Linked DNA regions of Homo sapiens: all the other regions are linked to region 1. Evidence: fine-mapped expression QTL. A gene starts in region 1. Each other region holds a variant in brackets. All regions are shown on one strand. Distances are between the middles of the regions. Region 1 holds the start of PDPR (pyruvate dehydrogenase phosphatase regulatory subunit). Region 2 overlaps CLEC18C (C-type lectin domain family 18 member C). Region 3 overlaps PDPR (pyruvate dehydrogenase phosphatase regulatory subunit). Region 4 has its middle 24 kb from the start of CLEC18A.

Evidence for each region. PIP is the estimated chance that this variant, and not a neighbour inherited with it, causes the effect.
Region 2: its variant is fine-mapped to the expression of PDPR in whole blood (GTEx, PIP above 0.99). The same link has a PIP of 0.9 or more in sun-exposed skin.
Region 3: its variant is fine-mapped to the expression of PDPR in lung (GTEx, PIP above 0.99). The same link has a PIP of 0.9 or more in breast, esophagus mucosa, fibroblasts, subcutaneous fat, sun-exposed skin and thyroid.
Region 4: its variant is fine-mapped to the expression of PDPR in whole blood (INTERVAL, PIP above 0.99).

Annotation. Positions count from the first base shown.
Region 1 is chr16:70,110,352-70,118,293 of GRCh38, forward strand. PDPR (pyruvate dehydrogenase phosphatase regulatory subunit) reads left to right here and starts at 3,981. Exons shown (of 19, transcript NM_017990.5): 1 at 3,981-4,089; 2 at 4,470-4,579. RefSeq lists enhancers at 3,945-3,994, 4,515-5,457.
Region 2 is chr16:70,174,156-70,182,097 of GRCh38, forward strand. It overlaps CLEC18C (C-type lectin domain family 18 member C), which reads left to right. Exons shown (of 13, transcript NM_173619.4): 2 at 18-247; 3 at 792-883; 4 at 3,086-3,325; 5 at 7,695-7,792. The coding sequence starts at 124. Among named protein-coding and RNA genes, the nearest start is that of CLEC18C, 4.3 kb to the left of the region's middle. The variant G/A (reference allele first, on the strand shown) is at 3,160.
Region 3 is chr16:70,152,553-70,159,717 of GRCh38, forward strand. PDPR (pyruvate dehydrogenase phosphatase regulatory subunit) reads left to right here. Exons shown (of 19, transcript NM_017990.5): 18 at 839-1,021; 19 at 3,923-7,165. The coding sequence ends at 4,327. It overlaps LOC400541 (a long non-coding RNA gene), which reads right to left. Exons shown (of 3, transcript NR_126007.1): 2 at 6,253-6,337; 3 at 3,788-3,952. Among named protein-coding and RNA genes, the nearest start is that of CLEC18C, 18 kb to the right of the region's middle. The variant G/A (reference allele first, on the strand shown) is at 4,768.
Region 4 is chr16:69,971,229-69,979,170 of GRCh38, forward strand. It overlaps the pseudogene PDXDC2P-NPIPB14P and the pseudogene NPIPB14P. Among named protein-coding and RNA genes, the nearest start is that of CLEC18A, 24 kb to the left of the region's middle. RefSeq lists an enhancer at 1,238-1,738. The variant A/AAAG (reference allele first, on the strand shown) is at 3,881.

The sequences.
Region 1 (7,942 bases):
TCTAATCCCAGCACTTTGGGAGGCCAAGGCAGGCGGATCACTTGAGGTCAGGAGTTCAAGACCAGCCTGGCCAACATGGTGAAACCCCATCTCTACTAAAAATACAAAAAAATTAGCCGGGCATAGTGGTGGGCGCCTGTAGCCCCAGCTACTCGGGAGGCTGAGGCAGGAGAATGGCGTGAACCCAGGAGACGGAGCTTGCAGCGAGCCGAGATGGTGCCACTGCACTCCAGCCTGGGTGACTGAGCGAGACTCCGTCTCAAAAAAAAAAAAAAGAGAGAGAAGTTCCAGGCCGGGTGTAGTGGCTCACGCCTGTAATCCCAACACTCTGGGAGGCCGAGGCGAGCGGATCACAAGGTCAGGAGATCGAGACCATCCTGGCCAACATAGTGAAACCCCATCTCTATTAAAAATACAAAATTTAGCTGGGTGTGGTGGCACACGCCTGTAATCCCAGCTGCTCAGGAGGCAGAGGCAGGAGAATCCCTTGAACCAGGGAGTTGGAGGTTGCAGTGAGCCGAGATCGCACCACAGCAGTCTAGCCTGGCGACACAGTAAGACTCCGTCTCAAAAAAAAAAAAAAAAAAGAAGTTCCTGGCTGGGCGCAGTGGATCAAGAGATCGAGACCATCCTGGCCAACATGGTGAAACCCCGTCTCTACTAAAAATACAAAAATTAGCTGGGCATGGTGGCATGTGCCTGTAGTCCCAGCTGCTCAGGAGGCTGATGCAGGAGAATGGCGTGAACCCGGGAGGCAGAGCTTGCAGTGAGCTGAGATCGCGCCACTGTACTCCAGCCTGGGTGACAAAGCAAGACTCCGTCTCACAAAAAAAAAAAAAAAAAAAAAAAAAAAAAGAGTACTGATTGCTACTCGCAACATTCTTCTCTTCCCATGGTGTGAATGAGAACATCCCTGCTTTCCACACAAACACAGGCTCTCAAGCACACGAGAAGCATGCCAGGTGTCAGGTCCTTTCTGTGAAGTCGGTTGTAGGCAGATGTCCAGTCTACTGATGGGGACAAGAACTTCAGAGGGAGGAGGGAGGCCTTCCCCACAGCCATGCCGGTGCTGCAGGGAGGTAAGATAAACGCCTGCATCTTAGCGACCTCAGATCCAAATTCATTCTTACACTGTGGTAACATAGGTATGTCAAATGTTTGTCTGTACACTGTTTATCCTGTGTGGTAGCAAATACATTTACCAAGTCACTGCAGATGAAGATTTCACAAGAGGACTTGACAAGCGTAATTAAAACGTCTGTTTAGGGCAAGACATGGTGGCTCATGCCTCTAATCCCAGCACATTGGGAGGCCAAGGCAGGTGGATCTCTTGAGGTCAGGAGTTTAATGCCAGCCTCAGCAACATAGTGAAACCCCACCTCTACCAAAAAATACAAAAGTTAGCTGGGGACGGTGGCACGCGCCTGAGGTCTCAGCTATTCGGGAGGCTGAGGTGGGAGAATCGCTAGAGCCCAGGAAGTTAAGACTGCAGTGAGCCGTGATTGCACCACTGTGCTCCAGCCTGGGTGACAGGGTGAGAGCTAATCTCAAAAAATAAAAATAGGCTGGACGCGGTGGCTCACGCCTGTAATTCCAGCACTTTGGGAGGCCTAGGTGGGCAGATCACGAGGTCAGGAGTTTGAGACCAGCCTGGCCAACATAGCGAAACCCTGTCTCTAATAAAAATACAAAAATTAGCCCAGCGTGGTGGCGCACGCCTGTACAGTCCCAGCTACTGGGGAGGCTGAGGTAGGAGAATCCCCTGAACCTGGGAGGCAGAGGTTGCAGTGAACCGAGACCACACCATTGCACTCCAGCCTGGGCAACAGAGTGAGCCTCCATCTAAAAAATAATAATAAAATAAAAACACTCAATCCCCTAGAAAAAATAGTGCATCAGTGGTTATGAGAACCTACTAAGGACAAGACCCATCTTTGACAATGAAAGGGGCCTTAGGACTTACTTCCCTTTTTTTTTTTTTTTTGAGACAGTCTCGCTCTGTCGCCTAGGCTAGAGTGCAGTGACACAATCTTGGCTCACTGCAACCTCCGCCTCCTGGGTTTAAGCAATTCTCCTGTCCCAGCCTCCCAAAGTAGCTGGGATTACAGGCATGTGCCACCACGCCCAGCTAATTTTTGTATTTTTTAGTAGAGATGGGGTTTCACCATATTGATCAGGCTGGTCTCGAACTTCTGACCTCACGTGATCCAACTGCCTTGGCCTCCCAAAGTGCTGGCATTACAGGCATGAGCCACCGCACCCAGCCTGACTTAGCATTTTGGAGTGGAGGCCGATCATGGTGATGGAGAAGGAAATCAGGGACAGATCTACACCATTTGTTTGCTATTTACTGCACGTAAACAGAATGAAATCAACACATTAAGTATTTCACTTGATTTCATCCACCATCTCCTGCAGACAACCAGGTTTCTCCCAAATTCATGTGCCTGGAAATGGCTTGAACCAAATGGTTCATGAGGAAAACCTGTGATATTTTTCATGAAATCGCCACATCTGGGCATCAGGAAAGCCTTCCCCGAGAATGTCTCAAATTGGTCAGCCGTTTTCTCTTTTTTTAGACAGGTAGGTGTCCCCAAGCATTCAATCCTAGCTAAAATATGGAAGTATTTATCTAGCACAGGAGCCTATGGCATAGTTTCAGTCCACTGTCTGGCAGACCTCATCTGGGCTGTCTTTGTGTGATTTGACTGGCCAGTAAATGGGGTATAAACTATGTAGGCTGTGGCCTGGCCTTGTGACAGAGGGGTCCCTGGAACTTGACTGCCACTCCCTAAGAGCAGAAACCGCCTCTTTCTTGTACATTGCTGGATCCCATCATCCTGCACAGTGCCTGGCTACAGGTGGCCAGCAATAAAACACAAGATTGGGGCAGGCACAGTGGCTCACGCCTGTAATCCCAGGACTTTGGGAGGCTGAGATGGAAGGATCACTTGAGGCCAGGAGTTCAGGCCCAGCCTAGGCAACATAGTGAGCCTATCTCTACAAAAAAAAAATTTTTTTTAAATTAATAAAACACAAGATTGGTTTGTGTGGTGAGACAGTATTGAATCCAACAAACGGGAACTGGATAGTGTGGCCCAAGATGCAATGGTGGCTGCAGCATGAGACCCTTATGCATATAATATTCAGTGGAAGAGGTGCCAGGCACTGTTCTGGGTGCTGAGAATAAAGCTATGCATAAGACTAAGGTTCTGTCGACAGAGATCGTGTCACACCAGTGGAAAAGACAGTCATCAAACTTATATCCTTGAGTCAGTGATGAGTTCTAGAAGGAAAGAAAAGGCTGATGTGACAGTGAGGAAGGGATGAGTGGAGACTTCTCTGAGACTTCAGTGATTCCTCTTCCTCTGAGCTGAGCCAAGCTGAGAAGCTGAGAAGAGTAAGATAGGGCCGGGAACTCAGGTCCGTTAGTCCGTCCTCCGAGGTGGGGCGGGCCAGCAGAATGGATTTCCGATCTACTCTGTGAGAGCCTCGCCCAAGAAAGCCCAGAGCCACTTCCAAGATCCGCGCTCCCACGGCGATGAGAAGCGTTTTCCCCCGGGACTGCTTGGCTTAGGACTGGGGACCCACTGGCTTTGGAGTAAGCCCTGGCACGGGCCTCGAGGGAAGAAAGAACTCCCGCGCTCCCCACACTCCACAGGGCCTGCGATCATCTCAGATGTTCCGGTTCCACGTGCAGAAACCCCGCCGGTCCGAGGCCCCGGTTCTAAAACGGCCCTAAGAGTCAAGGCTTCCACAGCTCGCCTCTGAGGGTGGCAAAGAGGCCGCGGGGGCGGTGCCTCGCGAGACCCAAACAAGCCCACGTGGCAGGGGCGGGGCTCCGCGAAGGCGTCACGGCGCGCTCGTGCGCTGCTGAGGTCACGCGCCGGCAGTACCCTTGCCCGGGGGCCGTAAAGCGCGGAAGGTCGCGGTCTCGGCTTCCCCGGAACTTTTTGCTCGCTTCGCCCCGCCCCCTTCCCATCCCCGAACCCCGCTTTCCGGCCCGCGGCGACCCCAGGCAACTGTTGTGGCTGCCGCATTGCTCCCGCCGGGCTGTAGCTGAGCGCGGAGCCCGTGGGGACCGGTGAGGTAAGGAGATAGCTTCGGGGCAACTCTGGCCTCCCCGTCCGCGCGGGCCTAAGCGCCCCGGGACCCCTGGGTTCCCCTCTTTCTCCTTTGGTTTCGCCCGGGGGTGGTCCCCGCTAGCTCACGCTTCCAGTGGGTTCCGCCTGGCCTCTCGCGAAGTCGCGTCCGGGCGCCAGTACTCGTCCCCGTAAGGTTGTCCGCTCGTGCCTTGGCTTGTGTTCTCGGCTACCCCTGGGCGTGCGCACCGCTCCTCCAGGAGCCTGCACTTCAGCCCCGATGCCAGGGCGGCCGGGGTGACCTCGGGCTCCCCCGTCTCGGGCTTGCACACCCCTGCGGCGCAGAGCCAACTCCAGCTTGTCTAGCCCGGTCCTCCATCCCTGCAGATGGAACTGTTTTCCCGCGTTGAGACGTGCGGTCCGCTTGTGCTTTTAGAACTAAAGACTGCTGCAGAGTCCGGAGGAAGAAGTCACCTAGAAAAATCTGGGACAGGGCAGTAAGCTTCCTTCTTAATGTTTGACCTTTGGGGGCCGATGTGTGATACCTCGGATTTGAATCAAGAATCTCCAAGCCCATTTTCCGCATGCATGTAAACGTGATGTACCGGGATGGGGTCTGGTGGTGGAGGAGGAGCCAGCCTGACGGATAAGCTTTTCCAGTGGCAGGGACTTGTGTTAATTTCTTTTTTCTTTTTTTTTCTTTTTTCCGAGACAGAGTTTCACTCTGTCGCCCAGGCGGGAGTGCAGTGGCGCGATCTCGGCTCACTGCAACCTCTGCCTCCTGGGTTCAAGCAATTCTCCTGCCTCAGCCTCCCAAGTAGCTGGGAATACAGGTGTGCGCCACCACGCCCGGCTAATTTTTGTGTTTTTAGTAGAGACGGGGTTTCACTATGTTGGCCAGGCTGGTCTCGAACTCCTGACCTCGTGATTCTCCCGCCTCAGCCTCCCAAAGTGCTGGGATTACAGGCGTGAGCCACTGCGCTCGGCCAACTTGTGTTAATTTCTTAAACTTGCGTGATCACCTGGTGTACTTGTTGAAAAATACAGCTCCCTGGAGTGGCAGGATCAGAATCTGCCGAGGTGGACCGTGGGAATCTGTCATTTTTAAACAAGTGTCCCAGGTGGTTCTTTTGCTGAGGCAAGTGTGGGAAATGTTGTGTGAACCCACGCTCATCCAGTCTTCCTTGTGACCGGCAGTCCACTGTGCGCAACGCTGCAGCCATACAGAGGGACAACTCGAAGTTAGAACTAGCACCTTGGTCTTGTTGGAATAAGCAGATCTGAGTAGAGCCAGCTGCAGTCTTATGGTTGTTTAGCAGAAGTTATTCTTCTTAGCAGAGAATATTATACGGTCATTTTCCAGAACTGTAAAAACTCTATCATTTGTTTTAAACCAGATGATGTGCTTCATTTCTGTCTTTGACGTCTTCAGTTTCTTCTCCCCTGGCTTTACCTCCTTTGTTATCAGTTTGTGCTTTGGTTTTGCTGCCAACCTTATAGGTTTAGGTTTGGCGGCAAAGGCACTAGACTCTGGTGCCTTCTTTTCCTTCGTTGTCTTAAGCCCTTCTTTTCCTCTGCCCTCATGCCCTCACCACTTCACTCTTTTGAAGGTCATAATGAACACAAGGTCAGAGATCCCTTTTTTGGCGCCAAGCACCCTGGGCTTTTTTGAGATGGAGTCTCACTGTGTCACCCAGGCAGTGGCGCGAATCTGCCCACTGCAGCCTCCATCTCCCTGGTTGAAGCAATTTTCCTGTCTCAGCCTCCTGAGTAGCTGGGACTACAGGTGCAAGCCACGACACCTGGCTAATTTTTCTGTTTTTAGTAGAGACGGGGTTTCACCATGCTGATCAGGCTGGTCTCAAACTCCTGACCTCAAATAATCCACCCACCTTGGCCTCCCAAAGTGCTAGGATTACAGGTGTGAGCCCCTGCGCCTGGCCTTTCTTTGTTTTGTTTTGTTTAAGACAGAGTCTCACTGTGTCACCCAGGCAGGAGTGCAGTAGCATAATCTCGGCTCACTGCAACCTCTGTCTCCCAGGCTCAAGCGATCCTCCTACCTCAGGAGTTCAGGACCAGCCTGGGCAACATAGTGAGCCCCTCTCTACAAAAAAAAAAAAAAAATTAAAAAAATTAATAAAACACAAGATTGGCCTGTGTGGTGAGAGAGTATTGAATCCAACAAACGGGAACTGGTTAGTGAGGCCCAAGATGCAATGGTGGCCGCACCATGAGTACCTGGGACCACAGGTGCGTGCCACCACACCCAGCTAATTTTTTGTATCTTTGGTAGAGACGGGGTTTCACCATGTTTGCCAGGCTGGTCTCCAACTTCCGACCTCAAATGATCTACCCGCCTCGGCCTCCCAAAGTGCTGAGATAACAGGCGTGAGACATGGCGCCCGGCCTAAAGTTTTTTTTTTAATTCCACCTTAAAACTCATCTGTTACTGTGTTTGTTCTGCCACCTTTGCAATTCCCTTTCTCTGTTAGGGGAATGTGCTTAATGGTTCAGTCCTCACAGCTGTCCTTTCCTTACCATCTGCTTTTATTTGAAAGGTAGCGTGGAGTCATGATTAAATAGCCGGCCACTAATGCCAAATTGGCAGGGTTCTGCTACTCAACAGTTTGGTAGGACCTTGGGTGAGTCACTTCCACTTATCTGTGCCTGTTTCCTCAAGTGTAGAATAGAAATGCTAGTATCTACCTCATAAGGTTGTGAGGATTAAATTAGTTATATATATAGGCAGTATCTGGTGCATTGTAACTACTTATAAAAATATTAGCTTTAAAAATTATTTGCCGGTCACAGTGGCTCATGCCTGTAATCCCAGCACTTTGGGAGGCCAAGGCAGGCGGATCACGAGGTCGGGAGATTGAGACCATCCTGGCTAACATGGTGAAACCCCGTCTCTCCTAAAAATTAAAAAAAAAAATTAGCCAGGCATGGTGGTGGGTGCCTGTAGTCCCAGCTACTCAGGAGGCTGAGGCAGGAGAATGGCATCAACCCAGGAGGCAGAGCTTGCAGTGAGCTGAGATCGCACCACTGCACTCCAGCCTGGGCGACAGAGCGAGACTCCATCTCAAAAAAAATAAATAAGATGTCAAAGAGGCTGTGACCTGAGGAGATTACCTGTATTTGGGGGAGAGGTGGCAGGAACCATGCCAGGAGGGAACAGCATGCACAGAACCTGGAGCCGAATAGAACACTCACGCCTCACCTGATATGTTTGACGAATTACAGGTTGTTCAGTCTGGTTTGGTCAGAGTGTGAGGAAAGGAGAAATGAGACCACAGATAAGAACCAGAGTGTGAAGGATCTTGCACTTGATATGAAAAGAGTTTTGCCTTTTTCCTGAGGGCATCAGAAAGTCATTAAGGTGGGTGTGGTGGTTCACGCCTATAATCCCAGCACTTTGGGAGGCCAAGGCCAGTGGATCACCTGAGGTCAGGAGTTCAAGACCAGCCTAATCAACATGGTGAAACCCTGTCTGTACTAAAAATACAAAAAGTAACTGGGCGTGGTGGCGCGTGCTTGTAGTTCCAGCTGTTCAGGAGGCCGAGGCAGGAGAATTGCTTGAACCTGGGATGCAGAGGTTGCAGTGAGCCGAGATCACACCGCTGCACTCCCAGCTGGGCGACAGAGTGAGACTCTGTCTCAAAAAAAAAAAAAAAATTGCTGAGGAAAAGCAGCAAAAAGGGAGGGAAACGTTGCAGGTACATGAAAGAGAGATAGCAGTTGATGGAGCTAGGGTCAAGAGAAGAGAGGAGGAAGTGGGATCCAGGGCCCTTGGGGGAGATTAACTTTCCAGTGGATAAAAGAAGGAAGGAAGAGATGGTTGCAGATGCAAGTGGGTCTAT
Region 2 (7,942 bases), 64 kb after region 1:
CCTCTTTTGTCCACCAGCCCAGCCTGACTCCTGGAGATTGTGAATAGCTCCATCCAGCCTGAGAAACAAGCCGGGTGGCTGAGCCAGGCTGTGCACGGAGTGCCTGACGGGCCCAACAGACCCATGCTGCATCCAGAGACCTCCCCTGGCCGGGGGCATCTCCTGGCTGTGCTCCTGGCCCTCCTTGGCACCGCCTGGGCAGAGGTGTGGCCACCCCAGCTGCAGGAGCAGGCTCCGATGGCCGGAGGTAAGGGACACCTGGTGAGGAGGTAGGTGGAGGCACCATTATGAGCTCTGAGGAGTGGGTGCTAGGAGACTTCTGGAAGCCCGGTCCCAGGCCTGAGCCCCAGGCCGTGCGGGTGGTTTAATGAGGAAGCCCTGGGACAGCCCGGGGGCGGTGAGGGGTGGATGCTGGACTGGGGAGGAAGGAGGAGGAAGGAGGACCAGGGCTGGGGTCAAGGAGGAACGCCGAGGAGCGCTGTGGCTGGGGCCTGGAGAAATCCGTGGCCCGGAGGAGCCCCAGACAGGGGCCTGCGGGAGCCAGGGCTGGCCCCTACACCCAGCCCGCACCGCTGTTCCCTCCCGCCACCCCAACCCCAGCACTCAGCCCACGCCTGCTGTACCTGGTCTCTCTCTCAGCCTCGCTCCATTGCTATGCCCCACGTCCCCTGCACCCACCACACTCCTCTCCCATCTTGTTTTCCAAGGGCAGGGACACATGCTTATTCTGCCGTGTGTTGGGTTCAGGTCCCCCCATCCTCGGGCTGCCTGACCTTCTCTCTCCACCCCAGCCCTGAACAGGAAGGAGAGTTTCTTGCTCCTCTCCCTGCACAACCGCCTGCGCAGCTGGGTCCAGCCCCCTGCGGCTGACATGCGGAGGCTGGTGAGTACCCGACCCAGCTGGGCTCTGCCAGGGGGGTGGCCGGAGGCGCGGACCCCAGAGGGCGGCTCAGGAGGCCACGCCTGTCCAGGTGCCCTTCCACTTGACCAGGGTGGGCAGGCACAGCCAGCCACCTTGCCCCTGAGGGACGGAGGCCCTGGTTGCTGGGGGTCTCTGCAGTTTCTTAACCCCCCACCCTCAGTTCAGGAGGTCGGGCCCCTTGGCTCCCACTCGCCTGAAGGGCAGGACCTTGGGCCTTCCCTGGCATCTTGTTGCCACAGAGACCAGGAGCCACAGGAGGAGCCGGATCCCCTCCTCCAGGGAAGGGGAGCTTCACGAGGAGCCCTGCAGGATGGGCGGCCGGGCCAGGGAGGGAGAAGGTCGTGCTGGGCTGGGGAGGGGCTTCTGTGCGGCAAGGACCCAGCGCCTCCTCCTGAGCTTATCTGAGCCACGAGGACGGGCCTTGCCCATGTTCTCTGCTCACTCACTCGTCCACATTTTCCACATTTTCAGCAGGGGCCGGGGGTCGGGGGTATAGAGTTCCCCACCAGCCCGGCTGGGGCTGCGGGGTTGGGACTGTCATCTGGAGGCTCAGAAACGCTGCCCTCCATTGTCTGGGACCCCAGCAGCCCCAGCCCATGTTAGCAGGCCAGGGAGCCAGGGCAGGGTGGTGGGGGCGGGAGGGTTCCCCATGGCTGCTTCCCATGAACTCCTCCAAGGCAGGTGGCCACAGTGGCGACCTTGAGCACTCTAGGGTCAGTTTCCCAGGAGGTGGGGGTGGGGTGGCTAAATGCGGGGGGTCGCTTCTCCCCCATTCCCAGCCCTGAGTGGCTCTGCCTCTCCTCAGGCTCAGACCCTGGGCAACCAGGGGTGCTCCCAGCTGTGACCTCCGTGGTTGGGTACTCCTGCCTGGGACCCCAGGAGGGGCTGCGGTGGTCGTTGGCTGGCAGCTGGCACCCTTTCCAGGGCCCTTTTGTCAAAGTCTTAGAAAACTTCATTTCCATAAAGGTGCAAATGGAGCTCCATGGCTCAGCCTCCCTCGTGGCCCGGCCCCGAGCACCCTCCGGGCCTCTAGGGCTCCAGGGCACCCCTTCTTTGGACACAGTGGAGACTGAAGGTCTTGTGGGGGTGGAGGGCTGCTGAGGGACCCCGGGGAGCCCCCAGCTCCTGGCCCCAGCCTTCATCAGAGGTAAAACCCCGATGGACATTAGTGCAGGATGAAGTTGGCTTGGGGTGCAGCCCCGAGGGGCCCCCCTCCCTGCATCCACTCAGTGCTTGTGAGTCCTATCCTGCAGGCACCTCCCTGCTCCGTTTACAGATGAGCTCAGGGAGTCTCGGGAGATCAGGGGACTGCACCAAGTCACCCAGGGGTGGTGATTGCCAGGCCCACTTGTTTAAGAAGAGGGAGGGGGCTGGGCACGGTGGCTCACACCTGTAATCCCAGCACTCTGGGAGGCTGACACAAGCAGATCACCTAAGGTCAGCAGTTTGAGACCAGCAATGGCCAACATGGTGAAACCCCGTCTCTACTAAAAATACAAAAATTAGCCAGGTGTGGTGTCACATGGCTGTAATCCCAGCTGCTTGGGAGGCTGAGGCAGGAGAATTGCTTGAACCTGGGAGGCGGAGGTTGCAGTAAGCCGGGATTTCTCCACTGCACTCCAGCCTGGGCGACAGGGTGAGACTCTGTCTCAAAAAAAAAAAGAAGAGGGAGGGGGCGGGGTCAGCTGTGCGTGGTGGGGAGCATATGAGGCCAGGCTCCTGGGGGCAGGAGACTAGGGCAGAGAGGCGTGGCTGTAGGGCTTTTTGCATCACAGGAGGGCAGCATGGCCGGGTGGGAGCAGTGGAGCCTTTCTGACAATGGCCAGGGCCCAAACACAGAACCAGTCTGCAACGCGTGGGCACTGCTCACATGACCAGATGGGAGAAAGACAGCAGGAGCGGGTCCCACTGCCTGGGCAGGGCCGAAGGATGCCCACGACAGGATTTGGAGATGGAGGCTCAGTCGTGAGAGGAGCTGGGCTCCTCCTGGAGGGACATCAGACAACACCAGTGCTTCCTCCAGCAGGACTCCTCATCCAGTGCTCTCTTTGCCACCTGACCTGGCACCCGGTGGATGCTCAGAGATGGCAGGGGAGTTGAATCTTTGAGGCCTGGCCCAGCAGTCAAAGGCCTCCCACAGATGTCTGTTTGTGCTGCCCCCAGGACTGGAGTGACAGCCTGGCCCAACTGGCTCAAGCCAGGGCAGCCCTCTGTGGAATCCCAACCCCGAGCCTGGC[G/A]TCCGGCCTGTGGCGCACCCTGCAAGTGGGCTGGAACATGCAGCTGCTGCCCGCGGGCTTGGCGTCCTTTGTTGAAGTGGTCAGCCTATGGTTTGCAGAGGGGCAGCGGTACAGCCACGCGGCAGGAGAGTGTGCTCGCAACGCCACCTGCACCCACTACACGCAGGTGAGTGTGCTGCAGGTGAGGCCAGCGTGCCAGCTCCCAGATACAGACTTCCACTGGTCCATCTCAGAAGAGGCTACAGTTTGTCCTAAATGTTGGGATTCCTTTTCCTCCAATTGGTTTAGTTTTACTTTTTTTTTTTTTGATACGGAGTCTTGCTGTGTTGCGCAGGCTAGAGTGCAGTGGCGTGATCTCGGCTCACTGCAACCTCCGCCTCCTGGACTCAAGTGATTCTTGTACTTCAGCCTCCTGACTAGCTGGGACTACAGGCATGTGCCACCAGGCCTGGCTAATGGCTTTATACTTTTAGTAGAGATAGGGTTTTACCATGTTGGCCAGGTTGGTCTTGAACTCCTGGCCTCAAGTGATCCACCCACCTCAGCCTCCCAAAGTGCTGGGATTACAGGCGTGAGCCACTGTGCCCCGCCACATTTTTTCTTTTTTTGGAGACATGGTCTCAGTCTGTCACCCCAGGCTGGAGTGCAGTGGCGTGATCTCAGCTTACTGCAACCTCCGTCTCCTAGATTCAAGCGATTCTTGTGCCTCAGCCTCACAAGTAGCTGGGATTACAGGTGTGCGCCTCTACACCCAGCTCATTTTTTTGTATTTTTAGTAGAGACAGGGTTTCACCATGTTGGCCAGGCTGGTCTCGAACTCCTGACCTCAAATGATCTGCCTGCCTCAGCCTCCCAAAGTGCTGGGGTTACAGGCGTGAGCCACCATGCCTGGCCTAAGCCACTTTTTTTCAATCTGAAATATAAATAATTTCAAACATAAACGTATTTATTTATTTATTTGAGACGAAGTCTTGTTCTGTCACCCAGGATGGAGTGCAATGGCTTGATCTCGGTTCACTAGAACCTCTGCCTCCCAGATTCAGGTGACTGTCCTGCCTCAGCCTCCCAAGTAGCTAGGACTACAGGCACGAGCCACCACACCCCACTAATTTTTGTATTTTTAGTAGAGATAGGGTTTCACCATGTTGGCCAGGCTGGGTCTCAAACTCCTGACCTCAAGTGATCCACCTGCGTGGGCCTCCCAAAGTGCTGGGATTACACGTGTGAGACACCGCACCCAGCCTCAAACGTAAATTTAAAACGGCCCCACTCTTACCCACTACCTAGGTTTAGAAGATGCTACTAAACTAAAGCCCTGCTCCTCCCCTTTTCCCGCTGTCCCTCCCTGGAGGGAATCTTCCCAAAGTTCAGGAGCATCACTGCCAAGCAAGTTTCCATTTTTTCTCTTCATTCAACAAATATTTGTTGAGGGTCTTCTACACACACCTGGTGCTCTTCAGATGCACTGAAAAACACAAGCAAAATCCCAGGAAATATTTAATACCTCCACTACCTGTGCAAGTGGGTTGTGCATGTTTAAATATTACACAAGGCTGGGTGCGGTGGCTCACGCCCGTAATCCCAGCACTTTGGGAGGCCAAGGTGGCAGGATTGCCTGAGCCCGGGAGTTCGAGACCAGCCTGGGCCACATGGAAAAAACCTGCCTCTACAAAAAAATACATAAATTACCCAGGTGTGATGGTGTGCGCCTGTAGTTCCAGCTACTTGGGAGGCTGAGGTAGGAGAATTGCTGGAGCCTGGGAGGTGAAGATTGCAGTGAGCTGAGACTGCGCCATTGCACTCCAGCCTGGGCAGCAGGAGTAAAACCCTGGCTTAGTAAAAAGAAGAACATGTGCCCCTACAACTAGGTGCTGCCAAAGTGCTTACGCCAACTGTGCAGACCAGCAAACCAGTTCCCACTTCCCGAAGATCTTCTGGCTCCTTAATTTTTTTTTTTTTTTTTGAGACGGAGTCTTGCTCTGTCGCGCAGGCTACTGTGCAGTGGCGCGATCTCGGCTCACTGCAAGCTCCGCCTCCTGGGTTCACACCATTCTCCTGCCTCAGCCTCCCTAGTAGCTGGGACTGCAGGCACACGCCACCACACCCGGTTATTTTTTTGTATTTTGTTTAGTAGAGACAGGGTTTCACCGTATTAGCCAGGGTGGTCTTGATCTCCTGACCTCATGATCCGCCTGCCTCGGCCTCCCAGAGTGCTGGGATTACAGGTGTGAGCCACTGTGCCCAGCCTTGGCTCCTTAAGTTTTGTCAGACTCAAAGGTGTGAAAAACCTAACTCTGTTTTGTTGTTGGTGGTTGTTTTTTGTTTGTTTTGTTTTTGTTTTTGTTTTTTCGATTCAGAGTCTTGCTCTGTTGCCCAGGCCAGAGTGCAGTGGTGCGATCACAGCTCACTACAACCTCCGCCTCCCCAGTTCAAGAGATTCTCCTGCGTCAGCCTCCTGAGTAGCTGGGATTACAGGCGCCTGCCACCACACCTGGCTAATTTTTGTATTTTTAGTACTCCTGACGTCAGGTAATCCACCTGCCTCGGCCTCCCAAACTGTTGGGATTACAGGCTTGAGCCACCACGCCCAGCCTCTATTATTGTTTCTAATTTTCTTGATGTGAATGTTTAGATCATTAATTTTAAATCATTTTTTGTTTCTACTATATACATTTAAAGCTATAAATTTCCCTTTAAACGATTTCAGCTGCATCCAATAAGTTTTGATGTTTTTTCTATTTCCAATCATGATGTTGTTTTTGTTTGTTTTGAGACATGGTCTGGCTCTGTCGCCCAGGCTGGAGTGCAGTGGTGCAATCTCAGCTCACTGCAGCCTCAATTTCCTGGGCTCAGGTGATCTTCTCACCTCAGGTCCGGAGTAGCTGGGACTACAGGTGTGTGCCACCATGCCTGGCTAATTTTTTGTATTTGTAATAGAGATGGGGTTTTGCCATGTTGGCCAGGCTGATCTTGAACTTCTGAACTCACATGATCCACCCAACTCAGCCTCCCAAAGTGCTGGGATTACAGATGTGAACCACCACACCTGGCCATGATGTTGTTTTAGATTTTGAAGTGTATCTTTAAGTTTCTAAACTATGTTATCTTCTCTATTTACTTGTAAATTATTTACTTTAAATTTCATTGCATTGAATTCATAGAATGTGGGCTGTAGGATGTGCTGATTCTTTGCTATTTGTTGAAACTTGCTTAGTGGTCTAATGTATGGTCCTCCTTTCTGGTTTGCAAAAGTCCCATGCATTCCTAAAAACGATACATATTCTTTAAGTGTTGGATACATGTATATGATCACATGTTCACATCTGCCTGCTACAAGCCAGTCTTGTACATGTCATTTTTAGTCTCTACTGGAGAGTTTGTTTCACTCTTCTTATATATTGCCCATTTGTGCTATTTCCAAGCTGTTGCTGATTCTAAGACTTTAAACTGGTTTGCAGACCTGTATCCATTAGGTTTTATTGCATGACATACTACCCCAAAATTTAGCAGCTTACGATTCTGCAGGTCAGCCACTTGGGTTGGGCTCAGCAGGGAGGTTTTCTGGTCTTGGCTGGGCCCACTCATACACCTGCAATCAACTAGGGGGCCGGCTGGGAGCTGGCTGTGCAAAAAGGCCTCTAATGGTTCATCTCTGTTCCATGAGGCCTTCCAAACTCCTATACTGAGTTTGTTCATGTGGTGACTGAGCATGGTTCTATGAGAATGAGTGGAAATGGCAAGGTCTCTTAAGGCCTAGGTTCAAAATCGGCTCAGTATCACTTCTGTGGCATTCTGGTGGCCAAACCAGTTACAGAGCCAGCCAGATTCAAGGAGCAAGGAAAGAGACACCTCTCTTTGCTGCAAAAAGCTGCAGAGTCACATTTAAAGGAGTGGCCTGGTGCAAGAAATGAATGGTTGTGGTCACCATGCAGTCACAAGGCCCTTGATGTTCCAGTCTTTTTTTGGCTACTCCCCTCCACCCATCAACAATCTCCCCTCATTTCAGGTACCTCCCCTCTCCATCCCCCTCTCAACTAAGAAAGCCTTCCTAGGCCGGGCACGGTGGCTCACACCTATAATCCCAGCACTTTGGGAGGCCGAGGCAAGCAGTTCACCTGAGGTTGGGAGTTCAAGACCAGCCTGACCAACATGGAGAAGCCCTGTCGCTACTAAAAATACAAAAAAATTAACCGGGCCTGTAATCCTAGCTACTCGGGAGGCTGAGGCAGGAGAATCACATGAACCCAGGAGGTAGAGGTTGTGGTGAGCCAAGATCAGGCCATTGCACTCCAGCCTGGGCAACAAGAGCAAAACTCCATCTCAAAAATAAATAAATAAATAAATAAATAAATAAATAAATAAGCCTTCCTGAACTATTCCCACCCATGCTTCTACCCCTGCCCAGGACAGCTGCTGCTCCTGAGCCCTCGAGGAGGTAAGGGAGCCCTCTGTTCACCTGGATGATAGCGAAAGCTGTGTCCCCCTCCCCAGGGGTGGTTCACAATAGGGTTTCTGATCCCCTGTGTCTCCTGTAGCTCGTGTGGGCCACCTCAAGCCAGCTGGGCTGTGGGCGGCACCTGTGCTCTGCAGGCCAGGCAGCGATAGAAGCCTTTGTCTGTGCCTACTCCCCCAGGTAAGCCCTGCTACACCCTCTGCTGGGATGTCTGGGAGACAGGGAGGGGTGCTTTCACCGAGGGTGAGATTCCCACACATCCACCCGAAAGTAGAGTCCCTGATGCCTTGCTCTGCACCCTTGGTGGGAGAGGGGAGGAGAGGAAAGGCA
Region 3 (7,165 bases), 42 kb after region 1:
AGTGGTCTGTTTGGTAGATGCCTGTTCAGCTACAGTGGTGCAGTTCATAGAAACATACTGTGCTAGGATAAAGAACTGCAGTACCACTGAAGCTGGTTCTTTGCTACGTCTTGCTTTGGATTTCATTTTACAGTTTTAAAAGCAAACAGTGTAGTCTCATTTTTGTTGGACTTTAAACTTAACAGCGTATGTTCAGACAGGGATTGAATATTTGCTTTCAGTTTGGAAAACCTTCTGTTCACTGATCTGATAACGTACATGTTTCTGAAACCAAGAAAAGAGCAGCTTGAGAGCCTGAATGCTGTGGGACATGAGCAGGCGAGCCCTGCCTTCCTGGCTCCCCCGCCGTCATCCGATGTGTGCACACGTCTCGAGTAACGTGTGAGAGCTGGGCCTCACAGCTTGGGCCAGTACGTGAGGGAGTAACAGTGGTTGGGAAATTGGAGCAAAAGAACAAAGCCAGAATCAGATGAAGACCATGGAGGGTTGGTGGGCTGTTTTAGAAATGATGATGAGATTGGCCATTTACCAAATGGTGAGAGAGCTTCTATAAATTATTATTTAAGAATTGCTGTAAGCTAGAATCACCACACAAGACATTTTAGAGAGGTGAAAAGACATGGATCCTGTTGTCATGGAGCTTAAGTCCAGGCTGGGGTGACCCCAGCTCATCACTCCTGGGCTGTGCCCTGAGCGTGTCAAGGATGAGACATCCTGGGAGTTTTATACGCCTCCTCTCTTGTCCATGTTAATAGTGTGAGCCATCAGCGCTTCCAGACATGCTCCATGCTTAATTCTGAAGGTCTGCTGCTTATGAACTTTCTGTCTCTTCCTATAGTACGCCCTGCATGTATACAATGAAGTGATGAGTGTTGGCCAGAAATACGGAATCCGGAATGCTGGGTATTACGCTCTTCGCAGTCTCCGAATTGAGAAGTTTTTTGCCTTCTGGGGTCAGGATATAAATAACCTCACCACGCCCCTGGAATGTGGACGAGAGTCTCGGGTGAAATTAGAGAAGGTACTGTGTTTACCCAGACTCCACTTTCACTCAGCATCCCGAGTAGTGAATCTGCACTAGACTAGGAAGAAGAACTGATGTGACAGGAAAAGGGGGAAAAGATTGAGGCCTTGATGTTAGCATCAGGTAAATGAGGACAAGAGTGCCCTGAGAATGAAAACTTTATAGGATAAAATATCTTCAAATGAAAACATAATAATGGTGGCTCACGCCTGAATCCCAGCACTTTGGGAGGCTGAGGCGGGTGGATCACCTGAGGTCAGGAGTTCGAGACCAGCCTGGCCAACATGGCAAAACCCGTCTCTACTAAAAATACAAAAAGTAGGCCGGGCACGGTGGCTCACACCTGTAATCCCAACACTTTGGGAGGCCAAGGCGGGCGGATCACAAGTTCAGGAGATCGAGATCATCCTAGCTAACACAGTGAAACCCCGTCTCTACTAAAAATACAAAAAATTAGCCGGGTGTGGTTGCGGGCGCCTATAGTCAGGAGAATGGCGTGAACCCAGGAGGCAGAGGTTGCAGTGAGCCGAGATCACGCCACTGCACTCCAGCCTGGGCGACAGAGCGAGACTCCGTCTCAAAAAAAAAAAAATTTACAAAAAGTAGCTGGGCGTGGTGGCCAGCACCTGTAGTTCCAGCTACTCGGGAGGCTGAGGCAGGAGAATCACTTGAACCTAACAGGCAGAGGTTGCAGTGAGCCAAAATCGCACCACTGCACTCCAGCCTGTGTGACAGGGCAAGACTCCGTCTCAGAAAAAAGAAAACATAGTAAATAGATGACACTTGGTCAGGTGCGGTGGCTCACAACTGTAATCCTAGCACTTTGGGAGGCCAAGGCAGGAGGATCACTTGAGCTCAGCCTGGGCAATACAGCAAGACCTTGTCTCTGAATTACAATTGAAAAACAAACAAAAAAACCCACTTATTTCTAGTGTTCTGCTGTCTAAAAGACTGAGTGCTTTCTGGGAAGCTATTCTGAGTTAATTATGGTGATGCATTAACATGCCACGAATATTTGTACAAACTAGTCGTCCTATAGTCAGCTGCCTAATTTTTGTGGTTTTTTTCTTTTGTTTTTGATTTTGAGGTGGGGTCTCATTCTGTCACCCAGGTTGGAGTGCAGTGGCGCGATGTTGGCTCACTGCAATGCCCTCTCATGCTCAAGTGATCCTCCCACTTCAGCCTCCCAAGTGGCTGGGACCACAGATGCACAACCATGCCCAGCTAATTTTTTTGTATTTTGGTAAAGACAGAGTTTCACCACATTGGCCAGGGTGGTCTCGAACTCCTGAGCTCAGGTGATCCGCCCTCCTCGGCCTCCCAGAGTGCTGGGATTACAGGCGTGAGACAGCACACCCGGCCTAATTTTTTTGGTTTTTTTGTTTTGGGCGGATCACCTGAGTTCACAAGTTCGAGACCAGCCCGGCCAACATGGTGAAACCCCGTATCTGCTAAAAATATAAAAATTAGCTGGGCATGGTGGCAGGCACCTGTAATCCCAGCTACTCGGTAGGCTGAGGCAGGAGAATTGCCTGAACCTGGGAGGCAGAGGTTGCAGTGAGCCGAGATCATACCATTGTACTCCCACCTGGGTGACAGAGCAAGGCTCCATCTCCAAAAAAAAAAAAGGTAATAACCCATTTTGGAAAATATAAAGAAGGAAATTAAAATCACCCATATTTTGTCTATTTAATGGTAGTAACTATTTTTTTTTTCTTTCTTGAGACGGAGTTTCGTTCTTGTTGTCCAGGCTGGAGTGCAGTGGCGCGATCTCAGCTCACTGCAATCTCTGCCTCCTGGCTTCAAGCGATTCTCCTGCCTCAGTCTCCCGAGTAGCTGTAAGCCATCCAGCTAATTTTGTATTTTTTGTCTTTACCAAAATACAAAAAATTAGGTGGGTGTGGTGGCGCATCTGTGGGCCCAGCTACTTGGGAGGCTGAAGTGGGAGAATCACTTGAGCATGAGAAGGCATTTTTGTATTTTTTCTTTTTTTAGTAGAGATGGGGTTTCTCCAGGTTGGTCAGGCTGGTCTCGAACTCCTGACCTCAGGAGATCCCCCCGCCTTAGCCTCCCAAAGTGCTGGGATTACAGGCGTGAGCCACCGTGCCTGGCCATAATCACCGTTAATAGTTTATTCTAGTCTTATTTGTTGTACATATGTGTATATATGTGTGTATGCATTGAATATAGATGTGCATGGTCTTGTTGGGATTATATAAAAAAGTCTTTTTTTTTTTTTTTTTGAGACAGAGTTTTGCTGTGTCAACCGAGGCTGGACTGCAGTGGTGCAATCTTGGCTCACTGCAGCCTCTGCCACCCAGGTTCAAACGATTTTCCTGTCTCAGTCTCCCTAGAATTATAGGCACACTCCACCAGAATCTTGGCTCACTGCAGCCTCTGCCTCCCAGGTTCAAGTGATTTTCCTGTCTCAGCCTCCCAAGTAGCTAGAACTATAGGCACACTCCACCACACCCAGCTTATTTTTGTATTTTTAGTAGAGATGAGGTTTGCCTCATCTCTGTTCAAGGCGTGAGCCACCACGACTGGCCAATATAAAAACATTTTTCTAAAGTACTGGACTGATAAGGTATTTTATTAAGTGAGTGAGTTTTCTTCCTAAACGTTTTTGTTCTATCTGGTCTTGTGACTTTATGTTTATAAAATAGGAAACAAAATGCGTACCTCTGTTGTTACAAAAATTACCGCGGCGTCTTTTATATTTCACATGCAGTTTTTCACATGGTAGAAATCGCACAGTTTCCCAAAAGCTGGCAGGGTTGTGGGAGGAGGCGGCTGTGCCCCATTGCAGTGACACCAGGGGACCCTTCCCACGGTGCTGCTCTCTGTGCCGAGGGTCTGAGTGTCGCTGGATGACTCGGCGTTTCCTTTCTTTCTTAGGGCATGGATTTCATTGGTCGCGACGCCCTCCTGCAGCAGAAGCAGAATGGAGTGTATAAACGCCTCACCATGTTCATCCTGGACGACCATGATTCAGACCTAGACCTTTGGCCTTGGTGGGGAGAGCCCATTTACCGGAATGGGCAGTATGTTGGCAAGACCACCAGCAGTGCCTACAGCTACAGCCTGGAGCGCCACGTTTGCCTGGGCTTTGTGCACAATTTTTCTGAGGACACGGGGGAAGAGCAAGTGGTGACAGCAGATTTCATCAACCGGGGAGAGTATGAGATTGACATCGCGGGATACCGCTTCCAGGCCAAGGCCAAGCTCTACCCTGTCGCCTCCCTCTTCACCCAGAAGCGCCGAAAGGATGACATGGAGCTGAGTGACTTACATGGGAAGTGATGCCACCAGGGCAGCCTCACCTCCTCCCCATCATCTTGTCCTAGAGTGGGCGTCACCTTGGAGCTTCTCTTCCTTCCGCCTCTGTTCCTCTTCTGGAGCCTTTGCCTCCCATCTCTTATCTCCTTGATATAATTTTGAACTTGACCTACTTTAAACTTTTTTGCTCTGCAGCCTTCCTTGCCCTTCCACCTCCTCCTCCTAATATTCACTCTGGGCTCTTCTTCCCTTCCCACCCCTCACTCAGCTTCTCGTGGTGGCAGGAGGTATGTCTGACAGGACAGAAGCAAGCTCCACTGTGGACATGAGTGATGGTGACAGCTGCTTTCAAATTCTGCATCTCAAGGCAGGGCAAGCCGGGGTGGTGCAGGTCTCAGGGCACGAGTCCCTCTCCCTTGGGTTCCATTTTCTTGGAGCAGCCTATTAGTTCTGGTGGGGTTGCC[G/A]TGTGTCGGATGCAGCCCTGAGGGGCAGCTCGTGCCTGCAGCCCGGCAGCTCGTTCTCCTGTTCTGCTGTGCTGTGGGCTGGCACTCGATACCTCTGGCAAGAGGATGATTATCTACCTCACTGATAAGAGGCATCGCATGGACGTTCTCTGGTCTGTAGTGGAGACAAGCAGTTAACCTAGCACCATCCTCATCCTCCCTGCAGAAGCCATTAGCAGACCTTTGGGCCAGGGCAGCCTCCCTATAATTTTCTTCATCTCTTGCTAATCTCTATAATAAGGTTGCTTTTTCTTTCTTAGTTGAGTAAACAAGTAAGCCACAGTGTTTGAAAGGGAAAAACCATATTGCCTTGTGTGTTGCTTTTCCCAGTCAAAAGGGTCTGACCTTAGAAAGTCCCCACCAGTGATGCTGAGTGTTCTGCTATGGAAACAATGCTGCTTTTCTCTCAGCTGTCCAAAGTTCAGCCGTTCCTCCTTCCCCTTCTCCCAGTGCGTTTGACTTTGTCAGGTCAGCCTCACTTGTCCCTTTCACAGTTGGCCCATAAAGTCATGTTTCTCTCCCTTTAGAATAGGGAGGGGAAGGGATCAGGTGTGTTGTCCTGGGCCTTTCAACCTTGCGGGCTGTGCTGAGTTCCAGAGAGCTGCCGGAATTCCAGGTTTGACTCTCCAGCACAGAGCAGAGCTACACAGAGGTGACCCACGTTAGTCCACTGAGAGTTCTGAGTCCAAAGGGTGTACGTTGCATAAGGCTAGAGACCGCTTTTCCTCCTTTCCCCCCAGGCTCTTTGTTTCCCTCCACCCACCCTTCCATATCCTCTGGAGCAGGAGACAATGTGGGTGCCCAGAAGTGCCCTGCGCTTTCAGGCAGTGTCTCTGTTTTCCCAAGGTGAAACTTAGATATCATGGACTGTTGTCCAGCCTCAATGCTTCATTTTCCCCTTGCATATCAACTGCCCTAATCTGACTTTTTTTAAGTGCAAATAAACTGCTATAAGACATTTTGGTTAGTAAAACTCTAGCCTTTGGCGTGTTGGTATCTTGGAAGCATTAGCTCTGATAGGTCTATAAGTGTATTAAGGGACATCCTTCCATTTCATTAGAGCAGCTTAAAATGCTCAGGTGTCTGCCTTCTCTGGTGTTTCTTTGGGATCTCTGTTTACCCACTTACGCTGGCTCCTTCTAGACATTTCTTGCCACTTCCCCAACTAGACCACTCCTAGTGATTACTGACTTTAGTGCCTAAACCTTTTTGGAAGGTTCTGGTTGGCTTGTTAGAGGAGCATATGATTAGAATTCTGTTTGGGGGTCTAGTTGTCTTGGAGCAAGTATGTACTTAACTAGCCGAGAGATGCTGCCTCTAGGCAGAGAGGAGGAGAGGTGTTGCCGGCTGGAGGGCCAACCAGTGAACACCAGCTGTGAAGGCCTTGGGAGAGGAGGAACAGGCCCTTGGGCAGATGCAGGCATTACCAGCAGGGAGCAGACTTACCTCCGAAGATGGAGACAGGTGACTGAGAGCTGCAGGCCTCCTCTGCTCTTCCAAACACGTAGCATTTGCACCCCTCCAAAGCCATCTTTGTAAAGGAAAACGTATTTGTAATTGAATCCAGAAGAATTTAGTTACACATAGACATAACTCTTCAACCTTAACTATGGCAATACATTTGTGCTTTAACTGTTACATAGCAGTATCACCACTTACCAGGATCCAAATCGAAATAATAAAAGCTGTCTCCATAGTTTAAAATCGAATAGTGCCATCATCACAGTATATTAGTCAAATAGAAGCTTCATCAGAAATGTATCCCACATAGAGTTTTAAGACTTGGATTCTCTTCTGCCCTTGTTAATCTCCAACTAATTACTACAGATTGACACGTTTTTAATTAGCTGTCCTTTGTAAGAAGTCAGGAAATCTGATGCTGTGTCCAAAATTATGCACTGTTTGTTGAAGTAGAACCAGAAATCCTGACCTCCTGTTAAATGACATCAGTTTCCCCCTCTGAGCAACAGACTGCTTGTCTTGCTAGGAGAGGAGGATGGGGGGCTGAGCACTCAGGCTGTCCATTGAAACCCCTTGTCCATGAATAGGGTCATACTCCTAAGACTGATGGGGTGTTGATCTTCTAGGACATCACTTGTTTATTCAGTGCCCCAAACACAGATTTCTCTTCTAGCACTTTAGAGTTGATCCTTGAAGTCTCTCCTGGTTCATTCAAATACAAGCTGTGTGAGTCTGGTGGTTTTCTGTGATTGGTCTAATGTGAGCTCTTTGAACAGACAGATCTGACAGTGAATGACTCTCCCCTGCTTCTGGCATAACTGCTTTGCCTCTGTCTAGTGTCCAAGCATCTTAGCTGTTCAAGAGGAGAGGGCAGCATAACTTCCTGACCACCGGTGTC
Region 4 (7,942 bases), 140 kb before region 1:
AACACCTTGAGAGAGCAATGAGATCTCGCTCTCCTGCCTCATGACCGATACACGGTTTCAAGAAGTTAGATGACATCACAGATACTCAGGGCACCCAGCTCCAGGCCTTACTGCCTTCGCACAAGGCCGCTCTCTACTAGCTTCACCCCGCATGGAATGCAATGGTCAATGAGGCCCTGGTCAGAACATGGGACTGACAAAGCCAGCACTTGTAGGCTGAGTCTCAGATCACGTGGCTTGTTTGTTTTGTTTGTTTGTTTTTGGGAGATGGAGTTTCACTCGTGTTGCCCAGGCTGGAGTGCAATAGCACCGTCTCAGCTCACTGCAACCTCCGCCTCCTTGTTCAAGCGATTCTCCTGTCTCAGCCTCCTGAGTAGCTGGGACTACAGGTGCACGCCACCATGCCTGGCTAGTTTTTGTATTTTTAGTAGAGATGGGGTTTCATCACATTGGTCGGGCTGGTTTCGACCTCCTGACCTCAGGTGATCCACCCACCTTGGCCTCCCAAAGTGCTGAGATTACAGGCGTGAGCCACTGTGCCCGGCTGGCTTTTTTTTTTTTTTTTTTTTTTTTGAGGAGTCGCACTCTGAAATCCAAGCTGGAGTGCAATGATGTGATCTCCCACCATGCTAGCTGTGTTTGTTGTTGTTGTTTTTTCTTTAGTAGAGATGGAGTTTCTCCATGTTGGTGAGGCTGGTCTTGAACTCCTGACCTCAGGTGATCCACCCACCTCGGCCTCCCAAAGTGCTAGGATTACAGGCGTGAGTCACCATGCCTGGCCTCAATTTCTTGAAAGACAAAAAAGACAAAAAGAAAAAGAGAAAGAAAGAAAAAGAAAAAAAAAGAAAAAGAAAGAGAAAGAGAACAAGAAAAAGAGAAGGAAAGCTCCATGGGTTTAAAGGCAAGAGTCAGCTTCAAGGAGGGCTGGGAAGTCAGGTGATGCCACCCCTGTGCTTCCCGCGGCCAGATCACCTGATGGAGGTACCGTTGGTTTTGGGCCCGTCTCTCAGCACTTGCTACCAGAGAGGACAGCTCTACACCAGAGAGTGAGGGTGGGAACCTGCTCACTGCTGTCTGCTCAGGGCTGGGCATGAGGCAGGTGCTCAGTAGGGGTCTGGAGAATAAATGAATGAACCATCACGGGGCCAAGCACCTGGAAGCGGGCTGGAGATGCTTGCTCTGGACTCCTGGCTCAGGAGTGGACTCCCCAGGTGGACTTCCTCCTGCATCGCCACAGCTGAGTGCATGGAGCACAGGTAGGGCAGCTAATGAGCAGGGTCATCATGAATGACAGCAGATGACACCAGGACAGGGGAGGTCAGTAGCCAGATGGGAAGAAAGCAGAATGAAACAGGTCGCCCGGGTGCAGTGGCTCATGCCTGTAATCCCAGCATTTCGGGAGGCCGAGGTAGGCGGATCACGAGGTCAGGAGATCGAGACCATCCTGGCTAACACGGTGAAACCCTGTCTCTACTAAAAATACAAAAATTAGCTGGGTGTGGTGGCAGGTGCCTGTAATTCCAGCTACTCAGGAAGCTGAGGCAGGAGAATTGCTTGAACCCAGGAGGCGGAGGTTGCAGTGAGCCGAGATCACACTACTGCACTCCAGCCTGGGTGACAGAGCAAAACTCCGTCTGGAAAAAAAAAAAAAAAAAAAAGAAAAAAGAAATACTAAGTAACTTGTCTGAGGCCACTTAGTTACCAAGACGTGGGAGCTGGGACTTGAACCCAGGCAGTCTGGCTGGATTCATGCCTGCAGCCTCTGCACTCCTGCTACTTACTGTGTGAGAAGCGCCTGTTCTGTGGCAGGTTGTGGGCTGAGATCTTTCCATGACTTCCACTCATTTACCCCCAAGGCTGTTCTTAAAGACGGGCATGACAGTTAGGCCCATTTTACAGATGGGGCCCTGAGGCTCACAAGGGCATGCCACTCACCCATCTCCACAAAGCTATAGCTCGTCAGCAGAGGGCAGAATTCGGCCGCCTCTCCCCTAGCTCGAAGGCTGTGATTGACACAGAGGTTTTGTTGTTGTTGTTGCTGTTGTTTGTTCCTTTTTCTTTTTTTTTTGAGACAGGGTCTTGCTCTGTCATCCCGGCTGGAGTGCAGTGGTGCGATCTCAGCTCACTGCAAACTCTGCCTCCAAGATGCAAATGATTCTCGTGCCTCAGCCTCCCAAGTAGCTGGAATTACAGGTGTGCACTACCATGCCCAGCTGTTTTTTGTAGAGATGGGGTTAGTAGAGATTTGTTTAATAGAGACGGGGTTTCACCATGGTCTCTACTAAACCCTGTCTCTACTAAAAATACAAAAATTACCCAGGCGTGGTGGCACATGCCTGTAGTCCCAGCTACTCAAGAGGCTGAGGCAGGAGAATCACTCGAACCTGGGAGGTGGAGGTTGCAGTGACCCAAAATCATGCACTCTGGCCTGGGGTCTCGCTTTTGCCCAGGTTAGAGTGCAGTGGCACAATCATAGTGGCTTACTGCAGCCTCAAACTCCTGGGCTGAAGGGAATCCTCCCACCTCAGCCTCCCAAGTAGCTAGGACTATAGGCATGTGCCATCATGGCGAGTTAATTTTTTGTGTGTTTTTATTTTCTCGAGACAGAGTCTTGCTCTGTTGCTCAGGCTGGACTGCAATGGCGTGATCTTGGCTCACCGCAACCTCCACCTCCTGGGTTCAAGCGATTCTCCTGCCTCAGCCTCCCGAGTAGCTGGGATTACAGGTGCGTGCCAGCATGCCTGGCTAATTTTGTATTTTTAGTAGAGACAGGGTTTCGCCATGTTGGTCAGGCTGCTCTCGAACTCCTGACCTCGTGATCCACCTGCCTCGGCCTCTCAAAGTGTTGGGATTACAGGCATGAGCCACTGAGCCTGGCCTGGGGAGCTAATTTTTAAATTTGTTATAGAGACAAGAGAGACAAGAGTCTCTCTTATGTTGCCCAGGCTGGTCTCGAACCCGTGGCCTCAAGTGATCCTCCCACCTCAGCCTCCCAAAGTGCTGGGATTACAGATGGGTGTCACCGCAGCTGGCCTCTGAGGAGGGTTTCATTATAAACCTGCCCTGAAGGGAGGGAATCCAATTTTACGAGAGGGTGTAGCCTGGTGAGGCCTGGATGACCTCCGCAGGCAGGGGCTTGTGCCTGGGCTGAGGCCTAAGGGACAATGGGCAGACATGAAGTTGCCCCAGGCAGAGGGTACAGTGTGGGCAAAGTCAGGAAGTGGCAGGGCTTGGATCACTCCAGGAAGAGAGAGGAGTCACGTGTCACAGGAGCTCGAGACCCAGAGAGAGAGTGAGGCAGGCAGGCAGGCAGGCAGGGACCAAGCTTGGGCACAGCCAGGAAGGCAGGACAGGGCATGGTGGGGCCAATGGAATCATTACCCAAGACGGGCATTTTCAGGGAAACAGCTTAGATAAGGCCAGGCGTACAGTAGCTCCCACCTGTAATCCCAGCATTTGGGGAGGCTGAGGTAGGAGGACTGCTTGAGCCTGGGAGTTCGAGACAAGCCTAGGCAACATAGTGAGACCCCATATCCACAAAAAATTTAAAAAAGGAGTTTGTGTTCCTGTAGTAGCATACTTGGGAGGTTGAGGTGGCAGTATCACTTGAGCCCGGGAGTTCAAGGCTAAAGTGAGCTGATTGATTGAGCCATTGCACTCCAGCCTGAGCGACAGAGAGATACGCTGTCTCAAAGGAAATACAAATTAAAAAACCAGCCGGGCATGCTGGCGTGTGCCTGTAGTCTCAGCTACTTGGGACACTGAAGTGGGAGGATCGCTTGAGCCCAGGAGTTCAAGGCTGCCGTGAGCTATGATTGTGCCTGTGCACTCCAGCCTGGGCGACAGAGAAAGACCCTGTCTGTCTCTTAAAAAAAAAAAA[A/AAAG]AAAAAAAAAAAAATCTTAGAGGATGCTGTGCCTCCCTGGGGGTCTTCAGTCACCCATGGTCCTGGCAGCAGAGGAGGGCCAGGAGAGAGCTTCACCCACCTGCTGTCCTGCCCATGTGACATCCGCAGGTGCTGCCATGGCCACGACTGTTGTTACACTGGAGCTGAGGAGGCCGGCTGCAGCCCCAAGACAGAGCGCTACTCCTGGCAGTGCGTCAATCAGAGCGTCCTGTGCGGTGAGTCCCCAGCACCACCATGCCACCCACCCCGAGTATCCCCTGGGCATCCTGGCATAGCCAGATGACTTCCGTGCCCCTGTTGCAATAACCACTGCTTCCAACTCTCTATAGACCACCCCTTGGGTATATCTAATGTAAGTGATATTTATTTTATTTATTTTTTGAGTCAGAGTCTCGCTCTGTCACCCAGGCTAGAGTGTGCTGATGTGATCTTGGCTCACTACAACCTCTGCCTCCTGGGTTCAAGCGATTCTCATGCCTCAGCCTCCCAAGTGGCTGGGACTACAGGCATGCACCATCACGCCCAGCTAATTTTTGTATGTTTTTCAGTAGAGGTGGGGTTTCACCAAGTTGGCCGGGCTGGTCTCAAACTCCCCACCTCAAGTGCTCTGCCCGCCTCGGCCTCCCAAAGTGCTGGGATTACAGGCATGAGTCGTGGTGTCTGGCCCTAATGTGAGTGATCTTTAACAATGAAGACTTGAAAAAGAAAACCCTGAAGAAACCTAATTCTTTGATGTCTGGACGACAAGGAAGAAGATAGAAATGGCATCAGATAATAAACAGTGTAAATGTTTATCAGAAAGAGGCTGGTGGTCGGGACCAGTAGGAGGATCGCTTGAGTCCAGGAGTGCATCTCTACAAAAAAGTTAAAGGATTTTTTAACATTGGCCAGGCATGGTGGCACACATCTGTGATCCCAGCTACTTGGGAGGCTGAGGCAGGATTGCTTGAAGCCCAGGAGGTTGAGGATGCAGTGAGCTGTGATTGAGCCACTGCACTCCAGCCTGGCTGACAGAGCAAAACCCAGTCTCAAAAAATAATAATAATATTTTACATAACCAACCACTTCTAAAGACTAAAAAAAACCCCTACAATTAAAAACCTCAGGTCCCTCAGGCAATCATACCGATATTGAAACAAAGCAATAACATAAGGACTGCAGTATTTATTTTATTTTTATATTATTTATTTATTCTTTGTTAGTTTGTTTTTGGAGTGTGGGTTTTGTTTTGTTTTTTGATTTTTTTCTTTTGTTCCACTCACAGATTTCTTCTTATTGCCCAGGCTTGAGTGCAATGACCTGTTCTCAGCTTACTCAACCTCTGCCTCTTGGGTTTCAGTGATTTTTCTGCCTCGGCCTCCTGAGTAGCTAAGGGAGGAGTCTTGAGATTATCATCCACGGAGGGTGGAAGAGGAGAGGGTGGAAGGGGAATAAGAAGACATTCGGGAGGTGTCTTGAGGCTCAGGGAGTTATCAGTTATAGAATGTTGTTGAGTTGGAGGAGGTGGCTGGCGGCCCATCCTGTTTTTTAAAGTTTCAGCTGTGAGGTAGGGCCAGTAGGGCAATCCTGAAGAATGACGATGCTCCGCTGCCGCCATTCTGACCTGTAGGGCCGAAGAAGGGAATGTTTTCACACATATTCATTTGATGGACAAAATTACCGCCACCAACACGGTCTGCACCTTCTGTTGCTGGTGATAGATTTTTGCACCTTTCCATCCTCCAGGTTTCAAAATAGCAGTATCAGTGTCATAATATCACCCTTCCACTGAGTACTGCCGACAGCTGGGGAGTAAAGAAAAGTCATTGGGACACACTGTTGTCTCCACATGCCACTGTGTCTGTCTGCAAATGTAGGCAGGCTGGGGTCCTGCCCCAGGGAAGACAGAGTCATAACAGAGTAATAAAGAGGCATGTTTGAGACACAGGAGTGTCTATGTCTATCCTCATTCCTCCCTCACAGCCATCACCAGAGCATGTTTCTTGCACCAGGTCAACAGACAGTAAGAGAGGCATGAAAAGCCCATTGTCCACACATGTTGCAGCTTCTTTTTGGAGAATGTTTTCCAGGCCTTTTATGTTCTGTCTCTGATTCTCGGAACTCTGCAAGGTCAGTGTGACCACCCTGCTCCAAATCTAAGAAAACAGAGGTTTCCAGAGGAAGGAGAAATTGTGCCCGGGGTCACACAGCTTGCAAGAGGCAGAGTGGAAGTTGATTCCAGCTCTGCCTGCAGGACCCTCTCATTTCCCCTGTTTCCCTTCTTGATAAAGGATCTTCTTCACTCTGGAGGTGCCACCCATGAGAACAAAGAGCTCTGCAGAGATGTGGATTCCTGAAGAGCTGCAGGGGAACTGGGAGAGGGTTTTCTGACAGAACAATCTTACCTCAAGAAGTCAGTTAGGCATGGCTGTAATATTTCTTTTCACTCCCAGGTAATACCAAATTGTAAGTGCACTAGGACATAAAGAATACTTTTGTCCATGGAAAAATGAGGTGGGAATTCTAAACAAAGCAAGTTTTAAAACTGTTTCACTTCAAGTGTACAAGTCCCATCACGTGTAATCATAGGACTCGGCAGCTTTTGAAGGTACAGAGGCCACACAAGAACCAGCTTAGCTGAGCATCATTTAAGGCCTTCATTTGGAATTGTCCCTGTGGGTAATAAGTTACATTCACTCTTCACTAATTTACAGTCAGGGCCCATTTGCTATTACAAATATGGAACCTCTGACACTTTGAATATTAGATCAGGGGCCCCACTGGGTGGGGATGAAGGTGTTTTTGCACAACACGGTTACCAACAGGGATGGGACTGTGATGCTTGTAGGCAGCCTTCCTCTCTGCCATCTCCCTCTGCAGGGCTTGAGCACAGAGCTGTAGGGAGAAAAATGTATCCATGTCCTGACCTGGCAGACTGTCCAAAAGCAAGGAAAACAAACAAACTTACCCAGTTGCAAAGAGGCTTTCTTGCAGAGGGGGTGATCTGAAAAAGCCAACACATGAGAAATTGAATGTTGAGAGAGTCTAAGGGCGGTGGCATCATCTGCATCAGCACTGAACTATCCTGCAACTGCGGGGAGGAAGCTCCTTACTTTGCATTTGTGGTAGTCCTCTGCCCGCCACCGCAACTCTTGCGCACGTTGAAACATTTTCCTATGGATTACAATCACTTTCATCAGATAAAGCACCACTTTCAGGATGATTTTAAATAATCTGCCACGTTTCTGTTATCCTCATAACTGTACCCTTACACAATCTATCTCTACCTAGAAAACGTATTTCAGAGGGCTATAAGAGTACAGTCTGAGCTGGTCGCGGTGGCTGACGCCTGTAGTCCCAGCACTCTGGGAGGGCGAGGCAGATGGATCACGAGGTCAGGAGATTGAGACCATCCTGGCTAATACGGTGAAACCCCGTCTCTACTAAAAATACAAAAAATTAGCCGGGCGTGGTGGCAGGCACCTGTAATCCCAGCTACTCGGGAGGCTGAGGCAGGGGAATCACTTGAACCTGGGAGGCGGAGGTTGCAGTGAGCCAGGATCACGTCATTGCACTCCAGCCTGGGTGACACAGCGAGACTCCATCTCAGAAAAACAAAAAAAAACTGTACAGTCTGATCCAAACTGTTGCTATATTGATTCCTCCTCTTGCTTACTGCCTGCTGACTTCTGAGATGATAGTTTCCTTCCCCATTCTCAGTATATCCCTAATTCATCCTTCACTGAGCATCTTTTATCATAAAGCTGTATTCTCTTTGTATTAATATCCTTACCGTGTTTCACAGGGCAGAAACAGCTGGGCTTATAAACAGGCATAGTCCTTTTGAAGGATGTGGTTGATCCTACAACAACACACTTTCCTAAGGATGACAACAACTCACCCCACCCCTAGAATGGCTGGTATGAACCGAGTTTCTACACAGTCTAGCTGGCAATGGGGTCAGGAGACCTTTTGCTGCTTCACATCTTTTGGTCACTGGTAAATATTAAGGTACTTTGTTTTCTGTTTTGTGAACTCTCTCTCTCTCTCTCACGATATGTC